Homo sapiens: one gene and its partner. The protein of the gene in region 1 interacts with the protein of each later gene in a pairwise test. Each region holds a gene or a part of one and is shown in the gene's direction. Other genes may lie near its edges.

What was found. Proteins that work in one complex are often made in the same cells at the same time.
Region 2: the proteins of CIB3 (region 1) and ZNF578 interact in binary tests that used the Homo sapiens proteins (3 or more experiments, as listed by UniProt).

Annotation. Positions count from the first base shown.
Region 1 is NC_000019.10:16,166,905-16,170,558, reverse strand, and holds part of CIB3 (calcium and integrin-binding family member 3), read left to right. Parts: intron 1-817; coding exon 818-929; intron 930-2,274; coding exon 2,275-2,422; intron 2,423-3,654. UniProt on the Homo sapiens protein: Acts a an auxiliary subunit of the sensory mechanoelectrical transduction (MET) channel in hair cells. Plays a role in regulating hair cell MET channel localization and function.
Region 2 is NC_000019.10:52,509,040-52,512,693, forward strand, and holds part of ZNF578 (zinc finger protein 578), read left to right. Parts: intron 1-1,532; coding exon 1,533-3,115; 3' UTR 3,116-3,654. UniProt on the Homo sapiens protein: May be involved in transcriptional regulation.

The DNA of each region.
Region 1 (3,654 bases):
ATGAGCCGCTGCATCCGGCCTCTTCCTCCCATTATAAGGAGAGGAAGGGAAGGTATGAAAGTGAAGGTATCTTTGGAGGCAGGGTCTTGCTGATAACATGACAATATCCAGAGATGTGTGGATTATATAGGATTCTCTGAATGCTTGCTGTGATCTGGCCATAAGCACCCTCCCTTCTCCCAACTCCATCTGCTTTAGAAGCTCCTACTCATGCTTCAAAGCCCAGAACCAATGTCCCCTCTTCCAGGAACCCCCTTCTCCTCGCTAGCTTGCTTCCCCCAGTCCAGTCTCCCTTTGTCCTGTGGCCCTCTCTGCACCTTGACCCTGCCCCCAGGGAGGTTAGGGGTGCCTGTGTCAGGCTCTGTATGCTTGAGGTCCAGGCCCAGGGCTGAGTGTTCTTGGGGACCCAGTATACCTCAGTGTGCAGTGAGCAGCTGTGAATGTGAAAGAGAAGGGACTTGGCCAGGTGCGGTGGCTCACGCCTGTAATCCCAACACTTTGGGAGGCTAAGTCAGGTGGATCATCTGAGGTCAGGAGTTTGAGACCAGCCTGACCAACATGAAACCCCGTCGCTACTAAAAATACAAAAGAATTAGCCGGGCGTGGCAGGGTGTGCCTGTAATCCCAGCTACTTGGGAGGCTGAGGCAGGAGAATTGCTTGAACCCGGGAGGCAGAGGTTACAGTGAGCCGAGATTGTGCCACTGCACTCCAGCCTGGGTGACAGACCGAGACTCTGTCTCAAAAAACAAAGAAGGGACAAGCGTCTTGCCTGCTCCCTGCTCCCAGTCTTTCCCAGCTTTTTCCTCCCCACATCAGGCTCTTCTATCGCTACCAGGACCTGGCCCCACAGCTCGTGCCCCTCGACTATACCACCTGCCCCGATGTGAAGGTGCCCTACGAGCTCATTGGCAGCATGCCCGAGCTGAAGGTATGCCCAGGCCATGGGACAAACAGGGTAAAAAATAGTAGAGATGTCTCTCGTTGCATTCCTCTGAGGTCAGTGCTGCAGTTATCCCCATTTTAAAGATAAGAAAACTGAGACTCAGAGAGGTTAAGACACTTGTTCATGGTCACACAGCTACAATGTGACAGAGACAGGGTTAAAACCCAGAGTTGGCTGGTGTGGTGGCTCAAGCCTGTAATCCCAGCACTTTGGGAGGCCGAGGCGGGTGGATCACCTGAGGTCAGGAGTTCGAGACCAGCCTGGCCAACATGGTGAAACCCCGTCTCTACTAAAAATACAAAAATTAGCTGGGCGTGGTAGTGCACACCTGTAATCCCAGCTACTAGGGAGACTGAGGCAGGAGAATTGCTTGAACTCAGGAGGTGGAGGTTGCAGTGAGCAGAGATCTAGCCACAGTACTCCAGCCTGGGCGACAGAGTGAGACTCTGTCTCAAAAAACAAACAAACAAACAAACAACAAACAAAAAACACCCAGAATTGGGAGGATGAAACGAGATAATACAGGCAACAAATTCAGTACAGGGTGTGTTGTGTGTCAAGTACTCAGAGAACGTTAGTTCTTCTTGTAACAGGAGCTGCTAAATGCAGGTTTTTATCAGCAGGATGTTTGACACATGGTTTGTGCCTCCAAGGGGAACTTGTGGGTTGAGTAACTGACTGTGAGTAGGGTTGATTTTATTGCAAGTGACAAAAACCTTATTTGAGAGGGACAGAATGGTTTGGATCAAAATGGATTGCCCCTGAACAACAACAAAAAAATCCAGAGGCAGGGACAGTGTCAGGTACAGCTGGAACCAGGGCCTCTGATGATGTGCTCAGGAATCTCCCCCCATATCTCGGCTCCTCCCAGGAAGAGGTTTCAGTCTAAGGCAGCCTCACCTCTTGAGGCTGTGAAGGGACCTCTCAGCCACTCAGCTTTAGCTTCTGTGAGCTTTGCAAGCAGCAGTAATCAGGTCCCCTCCCTCCCAATTTTTCAGAAAAATATCCCAGGTCAGCCTCTGATTGGCTAGCTTGAGTCACATGCCCATCACAGAGCCAATCACTATTGCCAGGTGAATGGAACTCTCTGATTGGCCTTGCCTGGGTCACATGGCTGCTCCAAGAGCTGGAAGTTGGGGCAAGGTTGCTCAGATCACAGGGGTGGAGGGTGGAGTTGTCCAAAGTCCTGTCCAGGGACCATGGGAGGGAGTGGGTCTTGATGGAGGGTACTTGGAGGTTCCCAGAAGGTGGGTGCTGATAGTGAGACCACATGGACCCCAGAGACCTTGGGGGTCAGAGGATGGCCTCCCAGCTTCCTTTCTGTCCCCAGGACAACCCCTTCCGCCAGAGGATTGCCCAGGTATTCTCTGAGGATGGGGATGGCCACATGACCCTGGACAACTTTTTGGACATGTTTTCCGTGATGAGTGAAATGGCTCCCCGCGACCTCAAGGCTTACTATGCTTTTAAAATTTATGGTGCGTGCGTGGCCCTGGGGTTGGGAAGCATGGGGATGGGGTGGGGAGTGGGAACTGGGTGGGTGGCACCCACATCACAAATATCTCCCCAGGGGTTTTGAGGCCCTATGTGGCCCTGTCCTCCACCCCACTCCAATGCCTCCCCACCTCATTTATTTGCTAACTCTATTCCAGCCACATGGGCCTTGCTGTTCCTCAAACACAGTCTTCGGCCTCTGGGCCTTTGCCTCTGCTGAACCCTCTGCCTAGAACACCTTTCGCCTTGCTCCTTATTTATTTATTGATTTTTATTTTTTATTTTTTTGAGATGGAGTTTCGCTCTTTTTGCCCAGGCTAGAGTGCAGTGGCTCAATCTTGGCTTACTGCAGTCTCCGCCTCCCAGGTTCAAGTGATTCTTCTGCCTCAGCCTTCCGAGTAGCTGGGATTACAGGCAGGTGCCATCACGCCTGGCTAATTTTTGTATTTTTAGTAGAAACGGGGTTTCACCATGTTGGCCAGGCTTGTCTCGAACTCTTGACCTCGGGTGATCCGCCCGCCTCGGCCTCCCAAAGTGCTGGGATTACAGACGTGAGCCACCGCACCCAGCTCCCCTGGCTCCTTCTTACCCTTGAAGTCTAGGTCAAAAGTAGGCCTCTCCCCATTCATCCCCCCATCCCACCATCCTATTTCTCTTCTAGCACCAGGCAATGCTGCTTAATTTCTTGTTCCTTGACCTGTTCACTTCTTATTGACTTTGTCCCTGAGAAGACTCAAAGGTACCAACAGTATCTATTTTGCTCACCACCTGTCATCTGAGCCTGGCTCAGTAAATATTTGTTGAATGACTGAATGAAAGAAAAACAGTTATCTTAGTGCCTGGCACCTTGTGTGCACTCAATAAATACTTGTTTTTTTTGTGTGTGTGTTTTTTTTTTGTGAGACAAAGTCTTGCTCTGTCCCCCAGACTGGAGTGCAGTGACGCGATCTCAGCTCACTGCAACCTCCGTCTTCCGGGTTCAAGCAGTTCTCCTGCCTCAGCCTGCTGAGTAGCTGAGATTGATTACAGGTGCCTGCCACAACGCCTGACTAATTTTTTGTATTTTTAGTAGAGACGGAGTTTCACCATGTTGGCCAGACTGGTCTCGAACTCCTGACCTCAGGTGATCCACCCGCCTCAGCCTCCCAAAGTGCTGGGATTACAGGCATGAACCACCACGCCCAGCCAAATTTTTGTATTTTTAGTAAAGATGGGG
Region 2 (3,654 bases), about 36 Mb from region 1:
AACAGGCACCCGCCACCACACCCGGCTGATGTTTTGGTGTTCTTAGTAGAGATGCAGTTTCCCCATGTTGGCCAGCCTGTTCTCGAACTCCTGACCTCGTGCTCCACTTGCCTCAGCCTCCCAAGGTGCTGGGATTACAGGTTGTGAGTCGTCGTGCCCAGCCGTTAGTCAGTTCTTATTCCTTATAATGCTGTGTATTTTCTTGACCTCATACATCAGAAGGTAGTGATCTTAACATGTATTTCAGTTCTTATATTGTGTGCTGGTGGTTAAGTAGATGTTGTGGCTTTTTTCTTAAGAGGGAATTGTTTAGAATTCTGCAGGCTGTATAAATGTACTTATTTGCTTGCTGGTTTTATCATGGGTTACAATATTTTATTAATTAATTTTTATAATTTTGCATATGGCTTTTCAGTATGTGGTATGCAATATAACTGACACACTCCACTCGTTAATGTCAAAAGTGCCACCAGGTGCAGTGGCTCACACCGGCAATCCCAGAAATTTGGGAGGCCAAAGGGGGTGGAGACCAGCCTGGCCAACATGGTGAAACCCGGTCTCTACCAAAAACACACAAACTAGCCAGTCATAGTGGTGTGTGCCTGTAATCCCAGGTACTTAAGAGGCTGAGGCAGGAGAATCACTTCAACCCAGCAGGCAGAGGTTGCAGTGAGCTGAGATGGCACCATGGCACTTCAAGCTGGAATGCAAGACTGTCTCAAAAAAATAAAACTACAAAAAATGGTTTCAAAAGTCACTATGTGCCTGTTCTGTGTGGATATATGTAATTTTATGACATTTATTGAGAAAAGTATTGTATTAACTTTTTTTTTCTTTTTTTTCCTTTTTTTTTTCTGTTTGAGGCATAGTCTCACTTTGTTGCCCAGTGTGGAGTGCAGTGGTGACATCTTGGCTCACTGCAACCTCTGCCTCCCCGGTTCAAGTGATTCTTGTGCCTCAGCCTCCTGAGTAACTGTGACTACAGGCACGGGCCAGCACACCTGGCTAATTTTTGTAATCTTTTCTTATCTTCTCAGTGCTATAATTGTTTGATAATACAGAATTTCCATTGCTTTTGGTTATCCTTACATGAGCTTGTTGTGGATTATTTACCAATATAGTATATTGTGTGGTGTTTTTTTTTTGCATTTATTTGTACACAGTAAATATGGTTTAAATATGAAGAGTATATATTTTTCTCTTCCTTGATGTGACAGTGATATGTTTTTTGCAAACTGTGATACACTGTAGGGTCACAGTGGAAAAATACTCCTTACTTTAGGCTTACACATGTTTGTGCCCTGTCAGTGTTTTGTCATGATATAGGAAATAAGCTTTTATAGACTTGATTTGAAGGACATGTAATTGTCTGTTATTTATTAAAGAATCTTACTACTTTTGTGTTCGTAAACTTTGAAGATCATGTTTGGGAAGTTTAAAATAAGTATTTTTTATTGTGTCATATTTACACACTTCAGTATGATTTACCATCTGCACTTAATTGCAAACGTATTGGTGTTTATATTTTGTAGATATCTCTTCCAAACGCATGATGAAGGAGGTCTTGTCAACAGGGCAAGGCAATACAGAAGTGATCCACACAGGGATGTTGCAAAGACATGAAAGTTATCACACTGGAGATTTTTGCTTCCAGGAAATTGAAAAAGATATTCATGACTTTGAGTTTCAGTCACAAAAAGATGAAAGAAATGGCCATGAAGCATCCATGCCAAAAATCAAAGAGTTGATGGGTAGCACAGACCGACATGATCAAAGGCATGCTGGAAACAAGCCTATTAAAGATCAGCTTGGATTAAGCTTTCATTTGCATCTTCCTGAACTCCACATATTTCAGCCCGAAGAGAAAATTGCTAATCAAGTGGAGAAGTCTGTCAACGATGCTTCCTCAATTTCAACATCCCAAAGAATTTCTTGTAGGCCTGAAACACATACTCCTAATAACTATGGGAATAATTTTTTCCATTCATCATTACTCACACAAAAACAGGAAGTACACATGAGAGAAAAATCTTTCCAATGTAATGAGACTGGCGAAGCCTTTAATTGTAGCTCATTTGTAAGGAAACATCAGATAATCCATTTAGGAGAAAAACAATATAAATTTGATATATGTGGCAAAGTCTTTAATGAGAAGCGATACCTTGCACGCCATCGTAGATGTCACACTAGTGAGAAACCTTACAAGTGTAATGAATGTGGAAAGTCCTTCAGTTACAAGTCATCCCTGACATGCCATCGTAGATGTCACACTGGTGAGAAACCTTACAAGTGTAATGAATGTGGAAAGTCCTTCAGTTACAAGTCATCCCTTACATGCCATCATAGGTGTCACACTGGTGAGAAACCTTACAAGTGTAATGAATGTGGAAAGTCCTTCAGTTACAAGTCATCCCTTAGATGCCATCGTAGACTTCATACTGGAATAAAACCTTACAAGTGTAATGAGTGTGGCAAGATGTTTGGTCAAAATTCAACCCTTGTAATTCATAAGGCAATTCATACTGGAGAGAAACCTTACAAGTGTAATGAATGTGGCAAGGCTTTTAATCAACAATCACACCTTTCACGTCATCATAGACTTCATACTGGAGAGAAACCTTACAAGTGTAATGACTGTGGTAAGGCTTTTATTCATCAGTCAAGCCTTGCACGTCATCATAGACTTCATACTGGAGAGAAATCTTACAAATGTGAAGAATGTGACAGAGTTTTCAGTCAGAAATCAAACCTTGAGAGACACAAGATAATTCATACTGGAGAGAAACCTTACAAGTGTAATGAGTGTCACAAGACCTTCAGTCACAGGTCATCTCTTCCATGCCATCGTAGACTTCATAGTGGTGAGAAACCTTACAAGTGTAATGAATGTGGGAAGACTTTTAATGTACAGTCACACCTTTCACGTCATCATAGACTTCATACTGGAGAGAAACCTTACAAATGTAAGGTTTGTGACAAGGCTTTCATGTGCCATTCTTATCTGGCAAACCATACTAGAATTCATAGCGGAGAGAAACCTTACAAGTGTAATGAGTGTGGTAAGGCTCACAATCACTTGATTGATTCATCAATCAAGCCTTGCATGTCATCATAGACTTCATACTGGAGAGAAACCTTACAAATGTGAAGCATGTGACAAAGTTTTCAGTCACAGATCACGCCTTAAAAGACATAGGAGAATTCATACTGGAGAGAAACCTTACAAGTGTAATGAGTGTGGCAAAGCCTTTAGTGACCAGTCAACACTTACCATCAGGCCATTCATGGTGTAGGGAAACTTGACTAATGTAATGATTGTCACAAAGTCTTCAGTAACGCTACAACGATTGCAAATCATTGGAGAATCCATAATGAAGAGAGATCTTCCGAGTGTAATAAATGTGGCAAATTTTTCAGACATCGTTCATACCTTGCAGTTCATCAGTGAACTCATACTGGAGAGAAACCTTACAAATGTCATGACTGTGGCAAGGTCTTCAGTCAAGCTTCATCCTATGCAAAACATAGGAGAATTCATGCAGGAGAGAAATGTCACAAGTGTGATGAGTGTTGCAAAGCCTTTACTTCATGTTCACACCTCATTAGACATCAGAGAATCCCTACTGGAGAGAAATCTTACAAATGTCATCAGTG